Homo sapiens: one gene and its partners. The protein of the gene in region 4 purifies or fractionates together with the protein of the main gene of each other region. This does not show direct contact. Each region holds a gene or a part of one and is shown on either strand. Other genes may lie near its edges.

Region 1 (7,742 bases), on a different chromosome or scaffold from region 4:
GTTCTATATTACAGCTAAATCAAAGTAAGACTTGTGGAGAACCAGTCTTCAGGAAACCAATAAATTATATTCATAATGTGTTTGTCTTTCTCATTCCAAAAAAATGATTTAGGGCAGTATTCCATGTTTGCTAAGTAAACTTCTTCCCTAAACAACACATTCAAGGAAAACTATCAAAAATGCTTAAAGCTTTTTATTCCGCTCCATCACCCAGGCTGGAATGCAGTGCCGCAATCACAGCTTACTGCAGTCTTGACCTCCCAGACTCAAGTGATCTTCCTACCTCAGCCTCCTGAGTAGCTGGGACTACAGGCATGTGCCACCACACCAAACTAATCTTTATATTTTTGTGGAGAACGGGTTTCACCATGTTTCCCCGGCTGGTCTTGAGCTCCTGGGCTCAAGTGATCCACCCACCTCGGCCTCTCAAAGTGGTAGGATTACAGGCTTGAGCCACTATGCTCAGCCTTAAAGCTTTTTTTAAAAAAAATAAAAACGTGTGGGAGTTTATGAATAAAAGCTTAACCTATTAAAAAATAAAACAATTTATGCCAAACCTTTCATTTCCCAATAACAACGTTTAAAGACAGTATTTTAGGCCGGGCATCGTGGCTCATGCCTGTAATCCCAGCAGTTTGGGAGGCCAAGGCAGGCGGATCACTTGAGGTCAGGAGTTCAAGATCAGCCTGATCAACATGGTGAAATCCCATCTCTAGTAAAAATACAAAAATTAGCCGGGTGTGGTGGTGCACGCCTGTAATCCCAGCTACTCAGGAGGCTGAGGCAGGAGAATGGCTTGAACCTGGGAGGCGAAGGTTGCAGTGAGGCGAGATTGCACCACTGCACTCCAGCCTGGGTGATAGAGGGAGACTCTGTCTCAAAAAAAAAAAAAAAAAAAAAAAAAGACAGTGTTTCTTTAATTCCAGCTGTAAACCTTAATATAAAATTTACAGCAAAGTTTAAAGAAATAAAAGCACTTAAGTATTAATCATACTTATTCCTGCTCAAATGTCAACTGTGACACACTAGTTAACCACACTATGATGTTCAGCTTTTTAATTTTCTCTCTCAAGTTTTAATGTGACTGAGAACTGGCTTGATATACTTAATGCAATTTCTAAAAGAGATGTCAAAACCTATAAAAACAGACATTTATTTATTGTATTATATGGCTAAAGTGTTGATTCTGACTTAGATTTAACCTGTATTTATCATAGAACCATTCCAATTATATCTTTAGAGAGCTCTGCTTGCCAGAAATTAACTTGCTGAGATTTGGTTTCACATGGATATCCTCAGACATACAATCTAACAACATTTTCTCCAAAACCAAAGAAGAGATAAAAATAATCATTAACTGTTCACTGTACTTAAAATATTTGATGTACATCTGGTCATAATTCTTTTCTAGGTTAAATGTCACTAAATCAAGAGAAAATTATTCACAATTTGGTTTTAACCCAGGACATCATATATATTATAAATATTACATATGTAATAAGAAAATATTGGCTGGGCATGGTGGTTCATTCCCGTAATCCTAGTGCCTTGGGAAGTTCAAGGCAGGAGGACTGCTTGAGCCTAGGAGTTCAAGGTTCAAGGCTGCCATGAGCCATGACTGCACCCTGCACTCTAGCAGTCTGAGTGAAAGAGATATTGTCTCAAAAAAAAAAAAAAAAAAAAGTTGCTCTGGAACTCTGGGGCAACAACAACCAAAAAAAAAAAAAAAAACCCCAAAATATCATGCCTTGTAAACAATACTATTTTCAATGAAAATTTCATTTGTGGGAACACAAAAGGCTATTTCACTGAAAATTCCTACTACCAGTTCTTTTGTATACCCCCAGGAGAAAAAAATCCTCCTTTAAAAAAAAAAAAACGGAAATGCCTGGATGATTCACTAATAAGAAATTCTGTGGCTTACTTACCCTGATATGTCAGAGTAGATTGCAGTATCTACAAAGTATGTTGGCAAGAGATGAAAAATCAACAGTAAAATGGCCTTGCATCCTAACCCTTGTGTCAGCCACAGGTCAAGAACTGCAGGTACTGCTGCCCAGTATGTCCCCAGGAATGGCACTGCTCCAAGGATTGCTGCTAATGCTGAAAAAAGAGTAAAAGAAAAACAACTTAACATCATCAGCAAAACACTAACAAAGCAAAAGAATCTAAGCAGTAGCTCCTCCTCAACAACTTCCAACAAAACAAGTTAAATACTCACAAACTCAAATATTAGGGAAATGATATGCCCTATCTAACTGAATTTTCTAGCTAAGTAAAGGCTCAATATCTTAAAATGTGATACTAAAAATCTTTCTAAGTGTGTGTCTTATTTATGGATCTCTTCTTAAGCAATAAAATTCAAGGGTTCTGTAGTTGCTACTATCAATCAATAGTTAATATACGGTCCTATAAATACACCTACAGAACATGTGTCAAAACTTGTACTGAGTCCAAAGCCCAATCAGAAATTAGTTTCTAAACCTCAGCATAATAAAAATAAACAGAAAAAATCCTGAGTTGAAGGACCCTGCTTCAAGGTCATTCCCTTCCAGAGCAGTATGTTCAAGCACTCTTCCTCCATCTGGCTTCTCTCCAAGTTAAGAGTAAAGCAAATGTAGTTTCTAGTTCTGGTCCTACCAGAAGCCAGGTACATGACCTTGGAAAACTGGTCTCTCATCTATATGACAAGTCTACCATCCCGCCTCACAGGGTGCTTGCAGGTCAGAGGGTAGGTTTGTGGACATCACAGTAGAGAAGAACGTGAATGAACTTGACAATGTAGAAGGAAGCACAGACAAATAGGGAAAGGGGGGGATGTGGTAGAGGCAAATGTGGAAGGCAGAGATATTTAGGAAAACAAGCAGCCATAGAAATAAAGGAAGGAAAAGTAGAAGAAGCACCACAACAGATCTTAAGAGGTATGGAGGCAGCTTATGTGCCCTCAGAAGCATTCATCTTGCCCTGGGATGTAATCCCTCATGGACAAAGCTATTTTGACAACAAGTTGCTCCCTGCCAATCAGTTCAATTCAAACGTTACTGAGAGCCAATTATGTCCTAGGTGTTATGCTAAGTGCTAGAACATTCATTCATTGAACAAACATGTAGGGCAACTGATACGGGTTTGGATCTGTGTCCCCACCAAAATCCCATGTCAAATTGTAATCCCCAATGTTGGAGGTAAAACCTGGTGAGAGGTGACTGGATCATGGCGGGTGGATTTCACCCCTAGGTGCTGTTCTCATGATAGTGAATGAATGAGTTATCGTGAGATCTGGTTGTTTAAAACTGTGGTAGCACCTCTCCCCTCTCTTCCTCCTGCTCCAGCCATGTAAGACATGCCTGCTTCCCCCTTACTTTCCACCACTATTATAAGTTTCCTGAGGCCTCCCCCAAAGCAGGAGCCACTATGCTTCTTGTACAGCCTGCAGAACCGTGAGCCAATTAAACCTCTTCTTTATAAATTACCTAATCTCAGGTATTTCTTTATAGCAGTGAGAGAACAGACTAATACAGCAATTTTTTCTATGTGCTGGGTATGGTTCCAGCTGCTGGGGATACAGCAATAAACAAACACATTACAAATCATATTTCTGTTCCTAATGTGGACTAGATTCGATCTCAAGCCAAAAAATTTAGTTTTTTAAACTTGAGGAAGTAGACATTTCCTAGATGTATGTAAAATGGCTTAACTTTCCTTAAATAGCGAATAGTGGAAGGTACAATATGGTTGTTACCTGATGGTATGAAGACAATATTGATGCCAAACATAGTATGAGTCAGCCAGGTATACAATCCATAGAAGCCAGCCATTTTGAGGGAAGCATCAAACACCCCTCTGGAATGCCCAAAGATAAAAAGAAAGAGTAAATAAACAGTGTCATATCGTGATTCAGAAAAATCACGTGACCACTTGATTCCAAATCATGTAATAGCTTCAGTTTTTCTGCTGGCCTGAGAATGCTATTTTCATTTTATTTCAAAGAAACATAAACACCTTACTTTAAATACATTTACTAAGTTATTCTTTATGTAATATGAAATATGTTTTATTTGGAAATATGTTTACTATTCCTTAAATTTCTGATGAAAAAATAACTGAAACACCTTAAAATACCCTATTCTCTGAAATAATTCATCAACTTTTCACTCTGAAGCAGATATTTCACCACCAAAACAAATGGAAAGAAAATTAAGCGTGAATAACATGTTTCCAAGAATACAGTTTAAACTCTAAGAAACCCAGGCTGTGGCCAGTCCTCCCCTTTTGGAAAGAGCCAATAAGGGATAGTGTAACTTGTATTTCACCATCTTTCTTTGCCTTAACAAAATCTTCCTATGTTTCTTAAACTATGTAACTAAGCCTACAAAGTAACATCTCTTACAAATGCTATCAAAGAAAGTAGGTCATTGGGAGAGAATTTGTGGGAAAAAAAATATTCCTAACTCCAAAGTAAAATCAGAGAGGAAAATACAAGAGAGATAAAAACAGACACATATATTTGGTGACTAATATAGGAATTCAATACATGAAAATCTGCAATGTCAGGTGCTCTGTGTTTTTCAGTTGGAAGATTAGTAAGGCAGTGCAGCACTATAAGGAGGGGAAATAAGGAACTGTTCAGAGAGCACAAAGGTGGCAACCCGTAAGTAATCTCAAGGCAGCACAAAATCATAAAAACCTGGACTCTATGGGGTGGTGCAGAGGGGTGCAGGGAAAGCACCTTCATATGGTCACTACAGAAGAAAAGCTGTAGTTGAAAAAGAAGACGTTAGCGGCAAACGTGACCTTGTACATGCAAAAAGAAACACCAAGCTTTTCTAAAGCATCCCAAGAGGTATACTGTTAGGAGCAAAGTGAAGCCCTGTAATCTAGTGATTTAGTCATTTAGTAGTGTTCTGGGACATGGATCCAGGGGCAGAGTGGCTCCCCAATTGTAAAACCTGCTTTGTCATCCGGACCAATGGCTTTCACTAGAGAACGTCTTAAAGGAGCCATATGACTCTGCAACAAGAACCCAGAATAAAGTGGTATCAAAAATACCAAAAGGAAGCGAAAGACCCCAAAGAAAATACCAAGGATCTGCTCAACAACTAAACAGAGAGGACAGAGCAAAAAGAAAACAACAGAGCTTCAGGTTTTAAACCTGAAGGGGAAAGAATAGCAGTGTCTCAAAGTCATGGAGAAGGCCAGAATGGAAGAGGCATGCAAGAAAAGGGCAGTTTGTTTAGTATGGGCAACAGGAACTCAAAAAGGATGATGAAAATACCCTAGAGGTAGCTGAAATAAGAGACAAGGCTTAATAGAAAATTCAGAACAAGACATCTGAGACGCACCAGAATAATTATAAAAGAGTACAGGACATCTTAAAAGGGCAAGTGGAGAGAAAATAGGGCAACAGGTTGTGTTTTCATAAAGGACCTAAAGACAAAGAAATACCAGCCAGAGAGGTAATGAAATCATTTCCGTAGTAGGAGGAAAATCACTAGAGTGCAGTATTCCCGGAGACCAAGGGAGAAGGTAGGTTTTGAGGGGGAGGGAATAATGACATAATCGACCACAGAGAAAAAGAAAGGAAAAAAGTATAGAATTTGTCTAGAACTAGGGAGGTCAATGAGGAAAAGATAGAGATGTGATCCTTTCTTTAACCTTATGTTATTTAAAAAATTTAAGCCAAAAATAAGTTGACATCAAAGGTGCAACAGAATACTGCAACTCAATCACCCCTCTGGGTGGCAAGTAACCAAGGCTCAATCCAGTAAGGACCACGTGGAGAAGACAGCAGTCTTCTTTCTTTCACTGCTGAGAATATTGGTTGCTGGTAATGTTCTCAAGGCAACTTTTAAATGCACTGTATATTGTTTGCAGTTACTAAACATATTCATGTAACCTAGTGAGGGATGAAAAGACAATATATTCCCCTCTACCTCATTACTTGTGATCTGGCACACAAGTTTTATAAATAAAACAGCAGAGAAAAATCCTCTTACAATTTACCAGAAAACAGAATTTAACTCCCTCAAATTCCTAGCAACTTTTTCTTCTTTTTTATATCAGCTTTATTAAACTATGATTTACAAATAATAAAACTCACCAATTTGAAGCATTCAATTCAGTAATGTGCACAAATATATACATTCTATAACCATCATTACAATCAAGATGTAGAATATTTCCATCACCCCAAAAAGTTCCCTCATGCCCTTCTATTGTCAAACCCTCCCTAAACTCTGGCCTCTGATGGCCACTAGATATGCTGTCACTATAATTCTGCCTTTTCTAGAATTTCACGTAAACACAACCATACATTATATAGCTTTGTATTAAATTGTGGCAAAATATCCATGGCACAATATTTAGCATCTGAATCATTTTGAGTGTGCAGTTCAATAGTGCTAAGTACATTCACGTTGTCGTGTAGCTTTTGGTGTTTCTTTCACCTAGCATAATGCTTTTGAGCTTCACCAACATTGTTGAGTATATCAGTAGTTGGTTCCTTTTTTACTACTGAGTAGTATTCCATTATGTAGATCTACTACAACTTGCTTATCCATTCACCAGCTGATGGGCATTTGAGGTGTTTCCAGTTTGGGGGTATTATGAATAATGCTGCTATGAACATTTGTGTACAAGTCTTTGTGGACATATGCTTTCATTTCTCGTCTGTAAATACCTAGGAGTGGAGATACTGGGTCATACGGTATCTATTTAACTTTATAACTAATATTAGCTTTAATCTCTCAATTCCGAAAAAACTAATAGTCCACGGACACCAACCCAGAAGCCACTGCCTCCTACCTCACCACATATCTCCTCAAGGTATGAGGTTAAACCTCACAGTTTCATGTGAGTGGATGCTGGCAGGAAGAACAATTCAACCCATGAAAAGCTAAATGACAATGCATCTGAAGCACCTAGTAACTGACCTAGTGCACAGTAGATGCTCAATAAGCAGTGGCTATTAGTAGAAAATGTGGTGTGTGCACAAGGAAATACTATTCAGCCCCCCCAAAAGAAGGAAATCCTGTCATTTGCGACAACGTAGATGATCCTGGAGGACATTATGGTAAGTTAAATAAGCCAGGCACAGCACAGATAGACAAATACTGCATGTGGAATGTAAGAGTTGAACTCATAGAAGTAGAGAGTAGGATGTGGTTGCCATCCTACAAATTTTTTTTTTTTTTTTTTTTTTTTTTTTGAGACTGGGTGTCAATCTGTCACCCAGGCTGGAGTGCAATGGTGCAATCTTGGCTCATTGCAACCTCCACCTCCTGGGCTCAAGTGATCCTCCCACCTCAGCCTCCCAGGGGCTGAGAGATGGTCAAAGGGTACAAAGTTTCAGTTAGGATGCATAAGTTCAGTAGATCTATTGTACAGCATGGTGACTACAGTTAATAATAATGCATTGTATACTTGAAAACTGCTAAGAGTACCTCTTAAATGTTCTCACAACAAAAATGGTACGTGAAGTAATGAATATATTAATTAGCTTGATTTAACCATTTCACAATGTAACATTTTATTACAAACTATAAATATATAGCATTCATTTTTATTTGTTGTCTGGCTGGTTGCGGTAGTTCACACCTGTAATCCTAACGCTGTCAGAGGCCGAAGCAGGTGGATCGCTACAGCCCAGGAGTTCAAGACCAACCTGGGCAACAGGGAAAACCCCGTCTCTACTATAACCACAAAAAATTAGCCAGGCATAGTGCGTGCCATTAGTTATATGCCAG
Region 2 (7,064 bases), on a different chromosome or scaffold from region 4:
CTGGGCGACAGAGCAGAACTCCATCTCAAAAAAAAAAAAAAAAAAGAGAGAGAATACATACTAGCCATTGGTTGGATGCCATTAAAGAAATATTTTATTTTGTCTATATCATTGTAGATGCTAGTACCCTTAGATTAGTAAAACAAAACTACCATATGATCTTTATTTAAAAAGCCTTGGGTTAAGCTCTGGAGAATTTTCATAGGCAAATTCTTCTGTATGAGCTGGATCAGTAAACACGCCAATAAAATCTATCTCCAGGAAGAATGGACCATCCACTTTATCAGCCAAGGTGAATCCTATAGAAGAGATCTAAATTTAAAATACAGAAATTGATTAAAATCTCATACAGTGACGTACTGAGATTATTCCAGGAGTTTAAAATCCCATCAGGTGATGATTATAACTGGGTTTTAATGCTATCAGCCCTTAGCAAATACTACTAATTCTCCCATAGCATACTGTAAGAGGAAATACAAGACTGCTTTTCTTTCCTCATTCAACTTCCTCCCCTCTCCTCATTAGGTAGTGCCACTTAAGACTAGGAAGGACGGCCGGGCGTCGTGGCTCAGGCCTGTAATCCCAACACTGGGAGGCCAAGGTGGGCAGATCACAAGGTCCAGTTAAAAACCAGCCTGCCCAATATGGTAAAACCTCGTCTCTACTAAGAATACAAAGATTAGCCAAGTGTGGTGGCAGGCACCTGTAATTCCAGCTACTCAGGAGACTGAGGCAGGAGAAATGCTTGAACCCGGGAGGTAGAGGTTGCAGTGAGCCGAGATCATGCCACTGCACTCCAGCCTGAGTGACAAAGCAAGACTCCATGTCAAAAAACAAAAAGACTAGTAAGGACGACATGAATGCCTAATGGAGTTCCTTGAAGCGTTCATAAACTCTTATTTTAAAGCTAAATTAGGAGAGAAGGGAGGGGGGAAAATAGCTAAAGTAAAATGTAGGCATGCTAAAAAATGATCCTTCTAAAATTCCTTCAGGATGGGGGTATGGTTCATAGGAGAGGTCTAAGTCAGCCTCTGGCTGGGTATAAGAGCAGTGGCCCTGAGAAGAAATATTCATCTGCCAGCCTTCTCAAATGAACTCAGTCTCCCCAGAGTTCCGATTCATTAAAAATGATACAGTTCTGAGTGAAAAATACAGGAATATGTTACCTTATCAAGCGGAAGCTCATGCTGAACATCCCGGATTCTTCCTCGATTAGAGAAGAAAAATTTGGAAAAAGGAATCTGAAAGAAGAAACCATTTACTTCATAACTGAAATGTAAGCAATTGAGGCATCTGCATGTAATTGTAACGATAAAATGAGTTTACATTTATTCTAAAATTATGTCATATATGTATTATGACAAATGGCTAGCCATTTGGATCAAAGATATAACTCAGGCCAAACGATAAAGGGTTAACTATGAAAAAAATATTTGTAACATTTATGGAAAAAAGACTAGTATCCTAAACACAGCTTTTTTTTTTTTTTCTTTCTGTGGAGAATGGGGTCTCACTTTGTTGCCTGAACCCGGGAGGTAGAGGTTGCAGTAAGCCAAGATCACACCACTGCACTTCAGCCTGGGCGATAGAGCTAGATTCTATCTCAGAAAAAAAAGAAAAAAGAATTTTAACGTTTCCCTTCCTTCCTACATTAGAAACTGAACTAAAAGAAATGTCCTATTCCTTCTACTCTTGAACTTTCAAGTGTGCCTTTTTATTCATCAACTTTATTTTCATATTTCTTCTCTATGTAATTTACTTATTATTAAGCACGATCTTTTAAAACTATATCTGGCTTTAATTGTTTGTGTTTTGTTTTGAGATAGGGTCTCACTCTGTTACCCAGGCTGGAGTGCAGTGGTGCCATCTTGGCTCACTGCAACTTCCACCTCCCAGGTTCAAGCGATTCTCCCACCTCAGCTTCCTGAGTAGCTGGGACTATAGGCGCACACCACCACACCCGGCTAATTTTTTTTTTTTTTTTTTTTTTGGTAGAGACGGTGTTTCACCATGTTAGCCAGGCTGGTCTTAAACTCCTGAGCTCAAGTAATCTGCCAACCTTGGCCTACAGGTATGAACCACCACACCCTGCCTAAATAATTATACAGAAGCTCTCCAGGATATATTCCTAAATTTTAAAAACACAAAAAACAGGTACAGAGTATGCTAATTTTATTTATATTTTGAGTTTAACAAAGGAAGAAAATGGCTGGGCCTGGTTGTGCATGCCTGTAATCCCAGCACTTTGGGAGGCCAACACAATAGGATCAACTGAGCCCAGGAGTTCAAGACCAGCCTGGGAAACACGGTGAAACCAAGACTCTAGTAAAAAAACAAAAAACTTATCCAGCCATGGTGGTGCATCCTTGTAGTCCTGGCTATTCAGGAGGCTAAGGTGGGAGGATCACCTGAGGCTGGGAGGTTGGGGCTACAGCGAGCCCATGCTGCACTCCAGCATGGACAACAGAAGAGAGACCCTGTCTCAAATAAGTAAATAAATTTTAATGAACATAAATAAAAATGAATTATACATATTAATAGTTATTCCAGTAATTTTATCTCTAGGAATATAGCCTATGAAAATAGTTAAGGATGTTTACCTCAGAGTTTGTTCCGACAGTAGAAAACTCTGAAAACAATCTAAATCTACATGTACATAATGAAGAACAAGTTAAGAAAAAAAAATTTTTTTTTTTGAGACAGGGTCTTACTCTGTCACCCAGGCTGAAGTGCATGCAGTAGGGTGATCTCAGCTCACTGCAGCCTTGACCTCCCAGGCTCAAGCAATCCTCCCACCTCAGCCTCCTGAGTAGGTGGGACTAAAGGCACATGCCACCACACTGGGCTAATTTTTGTATTTTTGTAGAGACAGGGTTTTGCCATGTTGCTCAGGCTTGTCTTAGACTCCTAGCTTCAAATGATTCACTGCCTTAGCCTCCCAAAGTGCTAGGATTACAGATGTGAGCCACTGGACCCAGCCAAAATTGTTGTCTACTTATATAATATCATGCAGACATTAAAAATGATGTAGAAATATATTTGAAGAGAAAGTTGTAAACAATAGTTCAGTGAAAATACTGTATATATGTTATAAAACACCACTGGAAGGGAAAAGTGTGACTAGAAAAGTGTAGAAGATACATATTAAAAATAGTATTTTTGTGCCAGGCGCGGTGGCTCACGCCTGTAATCCCAGCACTTTGGGAGGCCAAGGCAGGCGGATCACGAGGTCAGGAGATCAAGACCATTCTGGCTAACACGGCGAAACCCCGTCTCTACTAAAAATACAAAAAATTAGCCAGGTGTAGTGGCAGGTGCCTGTAGTCCCAGCTACTCAGGAGGCTGAGGCAGGAGAATGGCGTGAACCCGGGAGGCGGAGCTTGCAGTGAGCAGAGATCGTGCCACTGCACTCCAGCATGGGCAACAGAGCCAGACTCTGTCTCAAAAAAAAAAAAAATAGTATTTTATCTGCTGGGTATGGTGGCTCATGCCTGTAATCCCAGCACTTTGGGAGGCCGAGGTGGGCGGATCATGAGGCCAGGAGTTCAAGACCATCCTGGCTAACACGGTGAAACCCTGTCTCTACTAAAAATACAAAAAATTAGCTGGGCGTGGTGGTGGGCACCTGCAGTCCCAGCTACTCGGGAGGCTGAGGCAGAATGGTGTGAACCTGGAAGGCAGAGCTTGCAGTGAGCCGAGATCCCGCCACTGCAGTCCAGCCTGGGCGACAGTGCGAGACTCTGTCTTACAAAAATAAAAATAAAATAAAATAAAAATAGTATTTTATCACTGGATAGTGGTAGTACAAGATTTTTTTCTGTACTTCCCAAATTGTTTTTATAATGAAGTAGTTATTTTGTATAATAATTCATTATATATATATTACTTAAATACAAGTATATATAATTTGTGTTATATATCTGTATTACTACATATATATGTATGTATTGAGTGCTTATTTTGTGCTAGGCACTAGGACAAAATTCTAGGTACAGGGGAAACTGGTAGGAACAATATAAGCAAGATCTCTGCTCTCACAGAATTTACAGAATTTAGGGCCAGGTGTGGTGGCTCAAACGCCTATAATCCCAATACCTTGGGAGGCGAGTCGGGTGGATCACTTGATGTCAGGAGTTCGAAACCAGCCTGGCCAACTTGGTGAATGAAACCCCATCTCTCCTAAAAATACAAAAATTAGCCGGGCGTTGTGGTACACGCCTGTAGTCCCAGCAGGAGGATCTCTTGAACCTGGAAGGCAAAGGTTGCCGTAAGCTGGAATCACACCACTGCACTCCAGCCTGGGCAGTAAGAGTGAGACTCCATCTTAAAAAAAAAAAAAAAAAGAATTTATATAATTTATGTTCCAGGGAAGGCAGTAGAGTGACAATAAACAGATGAATGAATGAACAAAGTAATTTTAGTTAGTGATAAGTTCTATGAAGAAAGTTATAGGATGGTGGTGTTGAAATAACTGGATTAGAGGGTCCAACTTTAGTTACAGGAATCAGGAAAGGCCTCTCTGAGGCAACTTTTGAGCCGAGAGGTGAATGACAGGAAAGAGAAAGCAGGTGAAGACATGGGGGCAGAGCATTACAGCAGAGCAACACTAAGTGCAAAGCTCTGAGATGGAAATGAGGTTGTTAAATCTGACAGAAAAGGGGCTGGTGTGGAGGAAGGAGGTAGGAGGAGAGATGGAAGATGAAGACAGGAGGAGAGATGGAAGATGAAGACAGGGGTCCGATATTGTAGGCCCATAGGCCATGTGCAGGAGTTTGGACTTTATTCTTTTTTTTTTTTTTTTTTTTTCTTGAGATGGAGTCTTACTCTGTCACCCAGGGTGGAGTACAGTGGCGCGATCTTGGCTCACTGCAACTTCCACTTCTCAGGTTCAAGCGATTCTCCTGCCTCAGCCTCCTGAGGAGCTGGGACTACAGGCGTGTGCCACCACCTGCTGCTAATTTTTTGTATTTTTAGTAGACACAAGATTTCACCATGTAGACCAGGCTGGTCTCAAACTCCTGACCTCAAGTGATCTGCCCATCTCAGCCTCCCAAAGTGCTGGGATTAAAAGCATGAGCCACCTAGCCCAGCCTGGACTTTATTCGAATTGTAATGGGAAACCACTGAAGGGTCCTGATATGGTTTGGCTGTCTCCCCACCCAAAATCTCATCTTGAATTGTAGTAATCCCCATGTGTCAAGGGAGGGACCAGGTGAAGTTAACTGAACCATGGGTGTGGTTTCCCCCATACTGTTCTAGTGACAGTGAGTTCTCACAAGATCTGATGGTTTTATAAGGAGATTACCCCTTCATTCGGCTCTCATTCTCTTTCCTGCCACCATGTGAAGGAGGATGTGTTTACTTCCCCTTCTGCCATGATTTTATAAGTTACCTAAGGCCTCCCCAGCCCTGCAGAACTGTGAGTCAATTAAACCTCTTTCCTTTATTAATTACCTAGTCTCAGGTATTTCTTCATAGCAGCAGCACGAGAACAGACTAATACAGCTTACATGCTTAGGAGGTACATTTACATGCTTACAAGCATGTAAATGATGTCATCTGAACTATGCTTCAGAAAGATAACTCTGGCTGCTGTGGAGCCAGGATTTTAGTGGGGCAAGAAGACAAACAGGGAAATCAATAATGAAGCTGCTGCAATAATCCAAACACCTGGACCAGGGTGGGAGTAGAAGAGATGGCTAGAAATGGTCAGCTGCTGAGTGTATTTTGGAAGCAGAGGTGACAGGACTCGCTAATAGACTGGATGTGGGGCAAAGGAGAAGAATTCAGGATGACCCTCAAGTATATGACATGAGCAAAATGGGGACTTTCTTGTTGAGTTTTTTTTTTTTTTTTTTTTTGAGACGGAGTCTTGCTCTGTTGCCCAGGCTGGAGTGCAGTGGCACGGTCTCAGCTTACTGCAACCTCCACCTCCCAAGTTCAAGCAATCCTCCTGCCTCAGCCCCCCTAGTAGCTGGGATTACAGGCACACACCACCATGCCCGGCTAATTTTTTTTTTTTTTTTTTTTTTTTTGAGACGAAGTCTCCCGCCCAGCCTGGAGTGCAGTGGCACGATCTGCAAGCTCTGCCTCCCGGGTTCACGCCATTCTCCTGCCTCAGCCTCCTGAGTAGCTGGGACTACAGGCACCTGCCACCAAGCCCGGCTAATTTTTTTTGTATTTTTTTAGTAGAGACGGGGTTTCACTGTGTTAGCCAGAATGGTCTCCATCATCTCCTGACCTCGTGATCCACCCGCCTCAGCCTCCCAAAGTGCTGGGATTACAGGCGTAAGCCACCGCGGCCGGCCTTTTTTTTTTTGAGATGGAGTCTCACTCTGTCGCCAGGCTGGAGAGCAGTGGCCCATCTCGGCTCACTGCCACCTCTGCCTCCCAGGTTCAAGCGATTCTCCTGCCTCAGCCTTCTGAGTAGCTGGGACGACGCCACCACACCCAACTAATTTTTTTATTTTTAGTAGAGACAGAGTTTCACCATGTTGGCCAGGATGGTCTCGATCTCTTGACCTCGTGATCTGCCCACCTCGGCCTCCCAAAGTGCTGGGATTACAGGCATGAGCCACCGCGCCTGGCCTCTAATTCTTGTATTTTTAGTAGAGATGGGGTTTTGCCATGTTAGCCAGGCTGGTCTCAAACTCCTGATCTCAGGTGATTTACCCACCTTGGCCTCCCAAAGTGCTGGGATTACAGACATGAGCCACCACGCCTGGCCTAGGACACTACTTTTTTTTTTTTTTTTTTTTTTTTTTGAGACAAAGTTTGGCTCTTGTTGCCCAGGCTGGAGTGCAATGACACGATCTCGGCTCACCGAAACCTCCGCCTCCTGGGTTCAAGCAATTATCCTGCCTTAGCCTCCCGAGTAGCTGGGATTACAGGCATGCGCCACCACGCCCAGCTAATTTTGTATTTTTTTTAGTAGAGACAACAGGGTTTCTCCATGTTGGTCAGGCTGGTGTCGAACTCCCAACCTCAAGTGATCCGTCCGCCTTGGCCTCCCAAAGTGCTGGGATTACAGGTGTGAGCCACCACGCAGGCCTAGGACACCAACT
Region 3 (7,742 bases), on a different chromosome or scaffold from region 4:
ACATACTGGGAATACTTTTACAGTAAATATGCAACTGTTTGATGGAGGTGATTTCTCCCCACATTTATAGTTTGATTCAGGGCACTGAAAACACTTGCACATAAATTATAAGTTCAATTTACAGTGAAAACTTACTCCCCCACCATTAACAGTAATCACTAACTTACCTTTTAAAAAAAAAAACCAATTAACATAGCAATATGACTTGATACTTTTTCATCATCATGAGAAACTTGCCCCTAAATACATGTTCAAGCATTAAGAATAGTTGTAAAGTTACATCATTACGAGAGGGAACTGCAGTATGGATTTGAAAACTTCAGGTAAGGGAACTGCTAGGCCTGCCTCACTTGTCCCTTTCTCTTGTAGCCAACTCACCACCTCCTGGGATGGGAGACAGTGGATTATCCAATTTGTGTTCTCATTCCCTCCTCTAAACACCAAAGACAATTTCCCCAGGAAGTGTAAACTAAAAGATGAGTTACATAGGTGTTTACAAAACACAACTGGACATTTTCCATTATTTTGGGATAAACCAAAATAAATTTTAAAGTTTCATTTGGAGATTTCAAAGCTGAAAATGCTTTCAGCAAATTCTTAGATCTTAAGAAAGTACCTTAGATCTTAAGAAAGTATATATTGTCCATTGTTTATAAAATCATTTGCCTTTTTGATCTAAAAATTTTAATACTTGAATTTAACAGGTTTTTCTTCTGGACAAGTTCTTTGGCATTCAAGTATAATCAATACTTTCAGAGTAGTCACCTGCATCACACTGGAGTGACTGCTTTAATTTCTAAATCATCAATTAGTGTAACCCAGGGATACTGATGGCCTTGATACATAATTTAGTCTTAGTGTGTGGAAATCAGGGTTTTGGGGGGCATCATCTGACCCCATTTCTTTTTACCACAATGGTTCCTGCTACAATGTCATAAGCTGTTCGATTATGCTGAAAAAACAGCAGTGTGATGAAAGCAGGGAAAAAAGAAGCAATTGAAAAATTCTTGATCAAAGCTCGGATAGTGGACCTAAAAAGTTAAAACAAAAATATCAGGTAAGTTACACATCAAACCACATATAGATTAATGGTATCCCATCAAGTTCAAAATAGACATTTAAAACACAATTGTACTTCTCTACAGAAGTCTACAGGGAAAAAGACATTCAAGGTATAGTTGAGAGAATTTTTACCTTTGATATATTTTCAAGTAGCACTGTATCATGATCAAACCACCTGGGCTATTTCTAATAAGACTTCAACAACATAAAAAGCAGTAATAAACATGTCTCAGAATATTGAATTAATGGTTTACAGAGCTTTCTAGTATTTTCTCAGAAGAAATGAACATTAATTCTGAGTACTTTCTGAGTATGCTTACTGTAGTCCCATTTGTCTACCTTATAGAAAAAACATGCATTTTAAAGTACTGTGTGTTCTTTAATCAGCATTTTCCTTTGTGGGATCCAGTGATTAAGCAAAGCTTTTAAAAGCTTTCAACAATCACTCAGGATGGAGAATTATCCTACTTATGTTAGATTTCTGCCTTTTAGTGCACTGAAGGGCTGCAGAAAAGTACAGTGGCTAGGAGTGTGGGTTCTGAATCCAGACTAGTTAAATTCAGATCCATCGTCTACCAATTACTAGTTGTATTCCACATCTGCAAAAAGGGAACAATAGTATCTATCTTATGATACTATAGATAGTATATAGATACTACCTATAGTATATAGATACTACCTATAGTATATAGATAGAGACTACCTATAGTATCTTATGATACTATAGATATAGATCAATAGTCTCTATCTTATGAGGTTGTTAGCATTAAATTAATACATATGCAGTGTTATTAACAGTGCAGGTATATAAAAAGTACTCAATAAACATTAGCCATTACTGACTCTTATTAAAAGAAGTAGGTAGGTTTATAACTACCAGTTTTGTTTTGTTTTTTTTTTTTTTTGAGATGGAGTCTTGCTCTGTCGCCCAGGTTGGAGTGCAGTGGTGCAATCTCAGCTCACTGCAAGCTCTGCCTCCCGGGTTCATGCCATTCTCCTGCCTCAGCCTCCTGAGTAGCTGGGACTACAGGGCCCGCCACCACGCCCGGCTAATTTTTTGTATTTTTAGTAGAGACGGGGTTTCACCATGTTAGCCAGGATGGTCTCGATCTCCTGACCTCGTGATCTGCCCACCTCAGCCTCACAAAGTGCTGGGATTACAGGCGTGAGCCACTGTGCCCGGCTATAACTACCAAATTTTAAGAAAAATTTGAAGATGGCAAAACCAAGGTTTCTAGAATCACTTGTTTATATTTCTTGATGTAACAATCCAGCTCTGAATCATTCTGGCAAAAATTGCAGCCAATACCTTGTTTGGCTCAACTGACTACCAGCCACTGACCTCCACAGTTTCCATTATCACTGGTTGTACCTTCCCCCAGCGCTAGATGCCAACAGCTAACCTTGAATACTGGCAGTATTACAAGCTCTCACCTAACAGCAGGAGAAGGATGCACGAATGCATAGCTGTCAAAACTCTGCTGCCTATTCAAGATGGAATAATGACAGGCATGGCCAAATGGAGACTCAAGGCAGACTAGTACCTGACCTAACATCCACAGGTCCAAAGAATAATAAAGCTGATTGTGGAGCACTAATACACCATCAACACCCAAATCATCCTCTCGTATTGTGACTTATAATTCATAAAATGATCATCTTGAGGCAGGGCATGGTGGCTCACGTCTGTAATCCCAACACTTTGAGAGGCGGAGGCGGGTGGATCATGAGGTCAGGAGATCAAGACCATCCTGGTTAACACGGTGAAACCCCGTCCCTACTAAAAATACAAAAAATTAGCCGGGCGTGGTGGCGGGCACCTGTAGTCCCACCTACTCGGGAGGCTGAGGCAGGAGAATGGCGTGAACCTGGGAGGCGGAGCCTGCAGTGAGCCGAGACTGTGCCACTGCACTCCAGCCTGGGCAACAGAGTGAGACTCCGTCTCACAAAAAAAAAAAAAAAAAAATCATCTTGAAAATGTGTACTGTAAAAGAGGTCTACAATCATGTAACACAACTGAAATAAATATTCAAACTTTGTTTTAACTTAATAAATATAAGCCTATCTACTATGAAGAAAAAAACCCCAATATTCTAAAACACATTATTTTCATTAAGTATGTAGTAGATTAAGCTAAGAAAAGGACTTACGTTGTAATGCTAACATTTGAGGAAGGAATCACTAAAACCCGACTTGGTGCAATAAGCACTGATGTATCACATGTCACAACTCGAAGCCCCAGCAGGAACTTCCCTGGGGTAGCTCCACCTGCTCCCCAAATGCAAATTATCTAAGGAAAGAAGGATGATTTAAAAATTACTGGCTCAACTATACCAATTTTAAAGATAAACTTTTCCCACCATATTATTTCATGTTTTAAATTTTTCAAGTTGAAAGAATTGCATAGAATACTCAAAAGTTAACCATTTAACTTTATGCATTTCTGTAGGTCTCTAACATGTCCAATACCACAAGATGTCTGTCTCCTGTAATATTTCTCTATGACTACTATACTTTCTAGTAAGCTGCTTCTGCAGAAAACTACATTGCAATTTACAAGTATATTTTTGGACCACAATCTATAAGTGAAATTTTATTTGAGTTTCTAAGACTGAAAAATATTACAAAGAAATTGTAAAATGTCTCTCTTCCAAAAGTTTTTACTTAATGATTAGTTAAAATTTGGGAAAAAAAACAGAAAAGTAGACATGTGGAAAAGACATGAATAATTATAAATTTCGATTACTTTTTCGTCTTGGGCTGATAATCTAAAATTAGATTGTTGGCTAGGTGCAGTGGCTCATGCCTGTAATCCCAGCACTTTGGGAGGCCAAGGTGGGCAGATCACTGAGGCCAGGAGTTTGAGACCAGCCTGGCCTACATGGCAAAACCCTGTCTCTACTAAAAATACAAAAATTAGCCAGGTGTGGTGGTATGCACCTGTAGTCCCACCTACTCAGGAGGCTGAGACAGGAGAATCACTTGAACTCAGGAGGCAGAGGTTGCAGTGAGCCAAGATCACACCACTGCACTCCAGCCTGGGTGACAGAGCGAGACTCTGTCTCAAAAAAATAAATGTAAAAACATAAAATTAGATTGTTAAATATTAATTCTTGCTGAAGTCAGTAGCTTACCTCATAGAAACAAACTAATAATCTGTATATAAGTGCCACAACCATCATTTTCTGCAAGTCTTCCATTGATGTGTCTTCATCTATTTCTTCTATTATATAATGCATAGCAAACTTAGAGATATCCCTACACAAAATAATAGTTTGGGGTTATAAATAATTAGTTACCAGAACAGTAGCACTGACTTTTTTTTCATTAGTGCAAGTCATACATTTTAATTGAAATTCTAAACTAATCTTTAGATTCCCAACCATCTAGTATCATAAAGCATTCATTAGTTTATTCAACAAATAAGCAGCATTATCATGAGCAGACACTGTACTAGCACGGGGGAAATAAGGGTGAATGAATTTACACGGTCCCTGCTTTCGTGGAGGGTCTAACCTAGCAAAGAAAACAGAACAATAAATAAATAGCAATAATAAAGTGGGATGAGTGCTGTGATGGGGAACCTAGGATACTATGGAAACATACACCAGATACACTTAACCTTGTGAAGGTTTCCCAGAAAAGACAGTTAGATGAGGCTCTGAAGGATGAAGAGAAGTTAGCCAGACTAAGAAGAGGAAATAACGTTCCAGAAAGAGGGAACAGCAGGAGAGAATGTCTTGGAGAAAGAGAGAATATGATAGAAGCTGTAAGCAGTTTGGTGTGGCTCATATACTAAATGTGAGAGGTGGCAGTGATTAAGAAATAAAGGCAGGGTGTGGTGGTATGCACCTGCAGTCCCACCTACTTGGGAGGTTGAGACAGCCTCCTGAGTATAAACCACATGATGAAATTCAGACTTTATCCTGCTGGTAAAGAGAAACCATTGAAGGGGCTGAGCATGGTGGCTCACGCATGTAATCCCAGCACTTTGGGAGGCTGAGGTGGGAGGATCGCCTGAGCCTAGGATTTTGAAAGCAACCTGGGCAACACAGACCCCATCTCTAAAAAAACAATAAACATTTTAAAAAGAGAAACCATTGAAGGGTTTTAAGGTAGGAAAGGAACAGAACCAGGATTTATGATCACTTTGGTTTTATATCAGAGACTGGATTGAGATAAAACAGGAGACTGAGTTACCACTAGAAGGCTTCTGCTATAATCCAAGCAAGAGACGACAGTAATCGGAGTAGGGAGAAGCAATGATGATAAAAAATGGGCCAGGTGTGGTGGCTCATGCTTGTAATCTCAGCACTTTGGGAAGCTAAGGCAGGAGGATCATTTGAGCCCAGGAGTTTGAGACCAGCCTGGGCAACATAGGGAGACCCCATCTCTACAAAAAACAATTTTTTTTTTTAATTAGCTAGGCATGGTGGAGCATGCCTGTGGTCCCAGCTCCTTGTGAGGCTGAGGTGGGAGTGTCACTTGGGCACAGGAGATCAAGGCTGCAGTGAGCCATAATTGTACTACTGCACTCCAGCCTGGGTGACAGAGCAAGACTCTGTCTCAAAAAAAGAAAAATGATCTGGCAGTGAGGAGGTCTGGGGTTGAAAGCTATTCAGAAAATTGAACATAAAGGAGTTGGTATTTCACTGGATGTGGAGTGGAGTGAGAGGGAGGGACAGGGAGGAATCACAGTAACAGGTTTCTGGCAAGGACCCTGAAATTTGACTGCACAGGCTTGTATCTTGACTCTGTCACTTACTACCTTTGTAACATTTTAGGTTCTGTGCTCAACTTTTCATAAACCCAAATTTCAAACTCTATAAAATGGTGGTATTAATCTCTACACCTCATCTTGGTATTAAGATTAAATAAGAATCCACATAAAGAAGTGAGCAAGCTCAATACATGGCATATAGAAAGTACTCAGGAAGTGGTAACTGCTATTATGATTATTGTTAATCTGGAAGGATTACTCAAATAAACGTCTCACTTTGAAGTTCACTTGGGACTTGCCCCACAGTATGTGCAATCCCATTTGGAAATGCCATCTAGTTGATTATTAATTCACCTACCAAAAGCTCTTTATACCTTTGTCTTTAGAGACTCCACAAGATAGCAAGAGGGAACAGGATAGTGAGAGGTAAATTAGTTCCTGGCCTAAAAGAATAGGTGAATAAAATCAAAGCAGGTTTGGAGGCTCTTTTTACCTATTTTTGATAGGTGAGATTCCCACACATCTTATAGAATTCAGTAAGCTATTTTTTTTCCTTTCTAGTTATTTCTTAAAATCAACAAGAAAACAATAAATCTAACAAAGCTCTTATAAAGAAATCATGACACTGACAAGCCCATTATCCATATAGTCACGTGTAGACAAACAGAATGTAATAAAACAAGATCATTAAACAGTAGAAATTAAAACCCTTCTGCAAATGTCCTCAACTTACTTTATCCCACTGAGGTGCATAATGCTTAAGACAATGGTTGCTTTTATAAAGAAGAGAATAAAGAAATCCACCATCTCTGCCATAAATCTGTGGGCCAAGGATGGAATAACATATTCTCTGCCTGTAAATTAAAAAAAAAAAAAAGTTAGGAAAAACGAATCATTTCACATAAGCCTTGGAACACAAGCCATGTAATGAATTGCTAAAGAAAGTCAAGGTACAACTTAATAAAAAATATTTATAACCGTGCAGCAACTATTGATATTGATTCCACCAAGAATCCATGTTACTAAAATAGAGTAACAGAGAATCCACTATTTACTGAGCTTAAAGTTTGCTTTCATCACCTTAACGTTTAAAAATTGATTTCACACGGCCAGGTGCAGTGACTCACGTCTGTAATCCCAGCACTTTAGGAGGCCGAGGCGGGCAGATTGCTTGAGGCCAGGAGTTCGAGACCAGTCTGGCCCTGGCCAACATGGCGAAACCCCGTCTCAACAAAAAATACAAAAATTAGCCGGGCGTGGTGGCGCATGCCTTTAGTCCCAGCTACTAGGGAAGCTGAGGTGGCAGGACGGCTTGAACCTGGGAGGCGGAGGCTGCAGGGAGCCAAGATCGCCACTGCACTATCCAGGCTGGGCGATAGAAGCAGACCTTGTCCCCACCCTCCCCACTTTCCCCCTAGAAAACTGATTTCACAGATAAATTTGATTAGGGTACCCACTACATTTCACTAGGAATTCTAATGAGGAGAATCCAGGTGATCACATCTAAGTCACACAAAATTAAACATTTTTTAGTACAAATCAAGGTTAAATATTGGCAATTAGTATAAAGTAAATCCCTGTAATCCCCCCCCACCCGTTTTTTAGTTTGTTTTGCTTTCTTTAAAATAAACCCAGTGAGTATCAATCTGTCATCCTAAATTCTGACTGGGATCAGAGGCATCAACTAGTTCTTGTCCCATCTATCTGTGGCTAACTAAAATAAACTAAAAGTCTAATAGTTTAAATAGTAAACTAAGAAGTGTAACTAATTCAAAATATTCTAGTTCACACACAGAAGCAAAAACAATTACACAATATACAAGATATTGATCAAATGAAGTGAAGCTTTGACCCAATCAAAACTTCCTAACTCCACTTGTATCCATGTCGATCTCCTTTTATATCCGTTCAGTTCCACTGTCCTAAGTAGCCAATGTCTGAATAATTTTCAGCATTACCA
Region 4 (7,742 bases):
TGCCCTCTGATGCTAAATATAGTAATAATATGATAGTATACATATTCATTGGTTTTTTAGATCACTTTTTTTTACTACTTTAAAAATGATTTTTTAAAAATTACAGTTCTCTTCCTGTAGGTCTAACCTACATCCAAATTAAAACAGAAAAGAAACAAGAAGAGGTCACATTGCTGGCTGACCCACCAGACTCTAATGTAGTGCACTGCTTGCCAAGCAACACTTGATAGCACATCTACACATTCTTATCTTGGTTCTTTTAGAGAACATTCAGTGAGGTCTCTAGCTTCTCAAAAGGAAAGCATCCAGTTATTACATTAATGTTTTATCACCTTAAGATAGAATGAAAGGTTATTATATAGGATACATGCCAATAAAAGTAAAAGAAACAATCTTTATGCACTGGAAGGCTGTACTTCCAGCTAGAGTTAATCATAATGCTTACAGTTTTCTTGTTATTAAAAATGCTCAGTATATATCTATAAAGACTAGCCACAAATGCTTTTAAGAGAGCTCTGTTGTCATTTTTTTTTCTTTAGACAAAAAACAATTTCGGTTCATTCACTATACAACTTTTCACCACCCTGGTTGATACATTAAAGACAGTTTTGTTTTCATGTGCTATATTGCCCACAGTTTTTCAGGAGGCTCATAAGTAGGAAGAGCAGGAATGATGGCTTTTGAGGTGATGTATAAATAGGGCACAGAGCTTAGGCATCACTGTATACAAGTAGGTCCCCTCCTCTCCTGTCTCCCCTCTCCTCCCTTTTTTGCTGTTTAGATGATTGTTAATGAATGTCAAATAGAACCATTGGAGAACATGATTAAGAAAAATTATTCTCAAGTAGAATTGTCTAATTTGATAAATATGACTTTATTTTAACCCTCGTGATGGATTTGTTTAAAAGGCAGTCAAAGTTGGTTAATTCACAGAGGCAATTTTATTGCCGGCAAAGATATCAAAATTACAGAATTTTATTTAAAGTAAATTGAAAGTTATATATGCTACAGTAGGCAGAGGTTGTTGACTGAGTTAGTGGGTTTTACTGTTGATGCATGGTAATATTCACATATTATAATTTTGTCAAAACCGTAGGTGTTAGCTAGGGCAGTTGAAATAAATTAGGGCATGTTTTATAGGCTCCAAAGCTTTATTTTGGAGCTTATATATAAAAGTGTTTGTAGTTATTCCTTTCATTTTAGTTATTTGAGTAAATTTTGACAGTTTTTGAAAGTAAGTTGGTCATTCTGGGGAGCACATTTATGTATTCAATGTAGTAAAGAGTGTTTTTTTTGAGAAACTGGAAGAGTGCTGTTTTGCATATAAGATTTTTCGTTTGTAAAGCTCGCTGTATCTGCATTTGCAGCTTTAATAAGAGATGTGGAAAAGTGGTTTTCCCTTTTTGACACCTTCACAATTAATTGTTTAGGTGATATTAACAAGTAGACATCTGTATTAACTTTTATTGGGCTTACCTTGCTGATCTAACATTTTTGGTCTTAAAATATTATCAGTTAAAGATAATTAAGTGAGGAATTCTCCTGGGTACCATGTAGTAGGAAGACATGGGAGACGGATGGTAATACCAAGTGCAACATGTCACTAGTCAAGAGGGTAGTCATTTAGTGCCTACTTGGAAAAGTGCTGCAAGAAATATAAACTTCATTAGGCTCATAATCATAAAATTCACTTACGATTATTTGGTTTTTGAATTCAATTTATGTGAATTGATCTCATTATGTAAATCTTAATGTTATGATGTTTGTGGAAAGAGTGGTCTTAGTAACTTCATAAATGATTTTAGGCATGGTTATGACAGTTTTGTTAAGTTATAATACATTCACTATCTCACAAAAATGTTTTGCTAGTGTGATCATTTACCAAGACATGGAAAAAGCAATGTGTAGTAAATTGACCTCTTGTTTTACTTTGCATTTACTTATTTATTTCAGAGATGAGTGACTACTGATTGGATTGTTAGAGAGTACCACATAATTTCTCTTTAAGGTGATGAAATAAACTAAATAAAAGGGAAGAAGTGGGAGAATAGTATTTGTTAAATCCTTCAGTGTGTTGGTTGTTATATTAGATGCTTTCCAAATATTATTTTACAAGCCTATGAGGATTTTGGCTGCATTCAGAGCTAATAGGTGAACACTAAGACATGGAGAAGATTTTATCAGAGGTCCTAAAAGGTAGAGCAAAAATTTACATGCTGATCTTTCTTTTTTCTTTCTTTCTTTTTTCTTTTTAAGACACTGTCTTACCCTGTCATCCAGGCTGGAGTGCAGTAGCGTGGTCACGGCTCACTGCAGCCTCATCCTCCTAGGCTCAAGTGATTCTCCCACCTCAGCCTCCTTAGTAACTGGGACTACAGTCACATGCCAGACTTGACCATTTTTTGTATTTTTTGGTAGAGATTGGGTTTCACCATATTGCCCAGGCTGGTCTTGAACACCTGAGCTCGAGCAGTCCGCTTCCCTCAGCCTCCCAAAGTGCTGGGATTACAGGTGCCAGCCACTGTGCCCAGTCCAACATGCTGTTCTTTCTAAATTCCAAAATTCATGTTCATTTTGCTACATCACATTCAAATTGGTATGTATACTAGCTTTGTGACAAAATTTATTTGGGAGATTATTTTTAACATTGAATTTCTTAGAGTAACAGGAATAAATTAAAATATGAAAATTAAATAATATGGAAAACTAGTAGTTTCTTTTGAAATAGAGATTCCAGTTTTAAAAGTATCTTAAAAATTTTTAATAAGACTTTTTGCCAAATATATTTAAGGATCAAAGTACTTCTTGATGAATCACTTTTTATCGTATTGATGCCTTTGACTCATCTTAGTTTGTCTGCATGTAGTTATTACCAATTCGTGAGGAATGGCCATTTCAAAGTTTACCATAAATGAAGTAAAACGTCTTCAGTCACACTGCTTGGCTTTAATTCCTTACTCTACTCTTTCTTACTGTTGTGACATATGGCAAGTTACTTTAGCTTCTGCACTTCCTGTTTGTTGTTTTCCTTTTATTGGTGATAATAACAGTCTCTGTCTCCTAGGATCTCCTAGGTTGTTGTGGAGATTCAGTTAAGTAATTCAAGATCTCAACATTTTATTAGCATTTATTAACTCTCAAGGAATTTGTTGAGACGAAGAGCATTTGCTAGAATTTTATATACACATCAACTTATTTTGCTTTAGTAATTTTTTTGTTGGTTTGTTTGTTTTTGAGACGGAGTCTCGCTCTGTCACTTTGACAATGTCAAGGCTGGAGTGCATTGGCGCAATTTTGGCTCATTGCAACCTCTGCCTCCCGGGTTCAAGCAATTCTCCTGCCTCAGCCACCCGAGTAGCTGGGATTACAGGTGTGCGACACCACACTCAGCTAATTTTTGTATTTTTAGTAGAGATAGGGCTTCACCATGTTGGCCAGGCTGGTCTCAAACTCCTGGCCTCAAGTGATCCACCCACCTTGGCCTCCCAATGTGCTGGTATTACAGGTGTGAGCCACTGTGCCCAGCCTTGCTTTAATAATTTTTTTTGTACTTGGGAAAACCTACTTAGCGTACTCCACATTTTTAGAATGTTTATCTGTTTTATTCCATTTCATTAATTCAGCTTTCATTTCTGATTATTCTAGATTCACACATTTTTTCAGGAGGCTCATAAGTAGGAAGAGATGGTAGTAGAGATGGTATTGTGGCTATGTTATTAGGATTTTTGCTTTTCTTTGTAGTATGTAATAACTCTACTGTTACAATTGCATACTTCCTCTTCCCCGTAGCACCAAACCTTCTCCTTCTACAGTCTCTCCGATTTCAATAAATGGCTTCAATAGGCCAGAAACCTTGGAGTCTTCTTTTGGTACCTGATTTTAAAATTACAGTAGGCCCCCTTATCCAAGGGATGTGGTAGACCTTTGATATCTACTTTAGGATCATATGAATTTGTATTTATTTTGAATCATGATATTTTCTTTGTAAATTCTTAATTTGACCTTCCTCTTTATTGTAAAGAAACTGAAAATTCTGAACTTCTTAATAACTAAGTCTTTACAAATTGTTTTTTAAAAACTTTGAAATACTAGTGTGATTTTGTATACTATCTAAAAATGCCATTTTCTTTGTGTTTGGCCAAAAAGCGATACTGTGTCTGAAATGATAAAATCAGCTTAAAATTTAAAAAATAATTAGCATTACATTAATGTTTTGTTTTTCTTTTGTTCTCTTAGCTTCTTAATGAAGAGGATAACTCAGAATCATCGGCTATAGAGCAGCCACCTACTTCAAACCCAGCACCGCAGATTGTGCAGGCTGCGTCTTCAGCACCAGCACTTGAAACTGACTCTTCCCCTCCACCATATAGTAGTATTACTGTGGAAGTACCTACAACTTCAGGTATGAAACATCTAGTAATGTTTTTATTAGTTCTTTTTTTTTTTTGACATTTTGGTTTTGTGTAATTATCATGTCTGTTAATGGGCTTATAAACATATATACACATGGATATTTATATATGTATATACATACTGTGTGCACATATAAATATACAGATGTATACACACATATATATGTGTGTATGTATATATGTGTACGTACTTATATAACCATAAAACAAGATGATGGTGAGTGTGAATGAGAATGTGGTATATGTGACTGTAGGTGAAGGGTGTACGTAGTGATATCCCATACATATGATAATTACTGAATACAAGGCAATAATTCCTGTTTGCTACTGTTCATCTTATTCAGGTCACTCTAAAGAACTAATCTATTTTTCTGGCTACAATTTTTATTTCCTAAGCAATGATTAATTATTCAGTTTGATCAGTTTTGTATACCAGTGTGATTTAGTATACTATCTGATGATTCTTTAATTTTATATGTGATTATAACTTCTCTAGTCTAATAATTTCTAAATAAATTCTAAATAACTTCTCTAAATATTTTATATACTCATTATGAAACATTTTCATTTTAAAAATCAGTTACTGAAAAATATTTTAACAGAAAAAATTTTTCACTAGAACTTTTCATCTTATTCTGTATTTAACATCATCTACTGCTCTCAAATTAATGCCAGCTTTCTCTGGTTAGCATTTTTGCATTTGGAATGTGTAAACTCAATATTTCTTCTACCAAATTCATTTACTTTTTTTGTGTAGTTACTGAAAATCATTTTTTCATGGTGTCCTCACTAATGAAGCTAATACATGCTTACTCCTTTTATTTGGTTTTCGTTTTGCTTTTTTTTTTTTTTTTTGAGACGGAGTCTTACTCTGTCGCCCAGGCTGGAGTGTGCAGTGGCCCAATCTCGGCTCACTGCAAGCTCTGCCTTCCAGGTTCACGCCATTCTCCTGCCTCAGCCTCCCAAGTAGCTGGGACTACAGGCGCCCACGACCACGCCTGGCTAATTTCATTTTTGTATTCTTAGTAGAGACAGGGTTTCACCATGTTAGCCAGGATGGTCTCTATCTCCTGACCTCGTGATCCACCTGCCTCAGCCTCCCAAAGTGCTGGGATTACAGGCGTGAGCCACCGTGCCTGGCCTACTCCTTTTATTTGTATAAAATGTTTATTTGATGATTATGCTTGCTCATTGCCCAGTTTTATGCACAGTTTTTATGTTGATAACAATTTTGTCTTTAGCTATAAGATTTAACAGCTGGTTTGATGCCTGTTAAAATTTATTATATGCTAAATAGTAATTCTTCAATATTTTACAAGTTTTCACAATATAATAATAAGACTTTGCTACCTTAGATTAAAAAAATTAATTTGATTATAATTTTGAAGAAAGAAAATGAGTTGTTTTCCTACTGATGTTTGTCTGAGTAATGAAAGATACTATGAATAATTTTAAGAGTGCAATTGTGATACCATTGCTATTGCTGTGTAACAAACTACCCAAAATATAATAGAGTAAAATATCAATCATTTATTACTGTTAATTCTTACTGTTCTGGGAGTGGACTGGACTGAACTATGCTCTTCTCTCCTAGAGTCTTATGTGACTGTTGTCTGATGGTGGCTGGGGTTGGAATTATCTCAAAAGCTTCTTTTTTCACAAGTTTGGTGGTTTATACTGGCTTCAGCTAGGACCACAGCTGGGGCTACTGGCCAAGACAGTTATATGTGGCTTCTTATTGTGGCTTACACTTCCTCAGTAGATGGTGGCTGGGTTCCAAGAACAAGCATTCTGAGAGAAAGTCAGATGGAAGCTCTATCACCTGTTATGATACTGTCTCAAATGTCACATGGTATCCCTTATGCCATATTTTGTTGTTAGAAATGAGTCACTAAGTTTAGTCCTTATTCAAGAGGAGAGGAATTCATCTCTACTTCTTGATGAGAGGAGTTTTAAAGAACTTGAAGACTAACTTTTAAAACTCTCACAACTGCATACTTACCCTTCCCCGTAGCACCAAACCTTCTCCTTCTACAGTCTCTCCTATTTCAATAAATGGCTTCAGTAGGCCAGAAACCTTGGAGTCTTCTTTTGGTACCTGATTTTAAAATTACAGCAAGCCCCCTTATCCAAGGGAGATGTGTTCCCAGAACACCAGTGGATGCCTAGAGCTACAGCTAGCACTGAACCCTATAAATACTGTGTTTTTTCTATACATACTGTTGTTTGTTTGTTTTTGTTTTTGTTTTTTTAAGATGGAGTTTCATTCTTGTTGCCCAGGCTGGAGTGCAATGGCGTGATCTTGGCTCACTGCAACCTTCACCTCCTGGGTTCAAGCGATTCTCCTGCCTCAGCCTCCCAAGTAGCTGGGATTACAGGCATGTGCCACCACACCTGGCGAATTTTGTATTTTTAGTAGAGATGGCATTTCACCATGTTGGTCAGGCTGGTCTCGAACTCCTGACCTAGGGTGATCTGCCCACCTCGGCCTCCCAAAGTGCCGGGATTACAGGCATGAGCCACTGCGCCCAGCCCATACTGTGTTTTTTTAATATATACATACTTATGATAAAGTTTAATGCATAAATTAGGCACAGTAAGAGATTAACAACAACTAATAATAAACTAGAACAGTTATGGCAATACTGTAATAAAAGTTATGTGAATGTAGTCCCTCTTTCTCTTGGAATACCCACTCTTCTTCATGTGATGATATGAGATGATAAAATGCTTATATGATGAGATGAAGTGAGGTGAATGACATAGGCATTGTGATGTAGTGTTAAGGCTACTATTGATCTTCTGATGATATGTCAGAAGGGGGATTGTCTACTTCAGGTGATCCTGGACTGCAAAACCATCACGATGTCGATGAGTATGGATCCTTGATAGTTGGAGGTTATTTTGCTGAAACCTTTTGGAAGAACATTGTAACTGGAAGTTGTTGTCTCTTTTTTATTAACTCATTGAAGTATTGCTGCAGAGGTTGTAGTGCTTCAGTGATCATATGGGTGACTTTGATACTGTGCCCCATTAAGGATCATATTCTATAATTTTGACATTTAATGTCCGTGCCATTTGAAACACTTCAGCAGATTTTGGTAATGGCCACGTTACTGATTCTGCTTCATTTTCTTCTTCATCTTCCTCTTCCTCTGTAGATGACTCTAATTCTTCCATATCCTCATTATTAACACTTCTTGATGGCCATCAGTATGCCCTTCTACTTCTTCATCAAGCATATTGGCAAATCCTTCTCCACCAACTTGTCTTGCTGTGTGATTTTCCTGGCTTCTCTGCTGATCCCCAAGAAGCCTTTAAAATCATTCA

What was found.
Region 1: the proteins of NDFIP2 (region 4) and TMEM245 purify together in Homo sapiens (affinity purification with mass spectrometry; one large-scale study listed by BioGRID and IntAct). This does not show direct contact.
Region 2: the proteins of NDFIP2 (region 4) and NDUFAF1 purify together in Homo sapiens (affinity purification with mass spectrometry; one large-scale study listed by BioGRID and IntAct). This does not show direct contact.
Region 3: the proteins of NDFIP2 (region 4) and FAM8A1 purify together in Homo sapiens (affinity purification with mass spectrometry; 2 studies listed by BioGRID and IntAct, with this or other methods). This does not show direct contact.

Annotation. Positions count from the first base shown.
Region 1 is NC_000009.12:109,034,278-109,042,019, forward strand, and holds part of TMEM245 (transmembrane protein 245), read right to left. Parts: intron 3,841-7,742; coding exon 3,740-3,840; intron 2,104-3,739; coding exon 1,929-2,103; intron 1-1,928.
Region 2 is NC_000015.10:41,387,282-41,394,345, forward strand, and holds the end of NDUFAF1 (complex I intermediate-associated protein 30, mitochondrial precursor), read right to left. Parts: exon of another isoform or gene 6,824-7,064; intron 1,242-6,823; coding exon 1,167-1,241; intron 313-1,166; coding exon 163-312; 3' UTR 72-162; downstream 1-71. UniProt on the Homo sapiens protein: As part of the MCIA complex, involved in the assembly of the mitochondrial complex I.
Region 3 is NC_000006.12:17,601,484-17,609,225, reverse strand, and holds part of FAM8A1 (protein FAM8A1), read right to left. Parts: intron 6,637-7,742; coding exon 6,516-6,636; intron 4,321-6,515; coding exon 4,197-4,320; intron 3,353-4,196; coding exon 3,213-3,352; intron 1,032-3,212; coding exon 887-1,031; 3' UTR 1-886. UniProt on the Homo sapiens protein: Plays a role in the assembly of the HRD1 complex, a complex involved in the ubiquitin-proteasome-dependent process of ER-associated degradation (ERAD).
Region 4 is NC_000013.11:79,516,574-79,524,315, forward strand, and holds part of NDFIP2 (NEDD4 family-interacting protein 2), read left to right. Parts: intron 1-4,236; coding exon 4,237-4,402; intron 4,403-7,742. UniProt on the Homo sapiens protein: Activates HECT domain-containing E3 ubiquitin-protein ligases, including ITCH, NEDD4, NEDD4L, SMURF2, WWP1 and WWP2, and consequently modulates the stability of their targets. As a result, may control many cellular processes.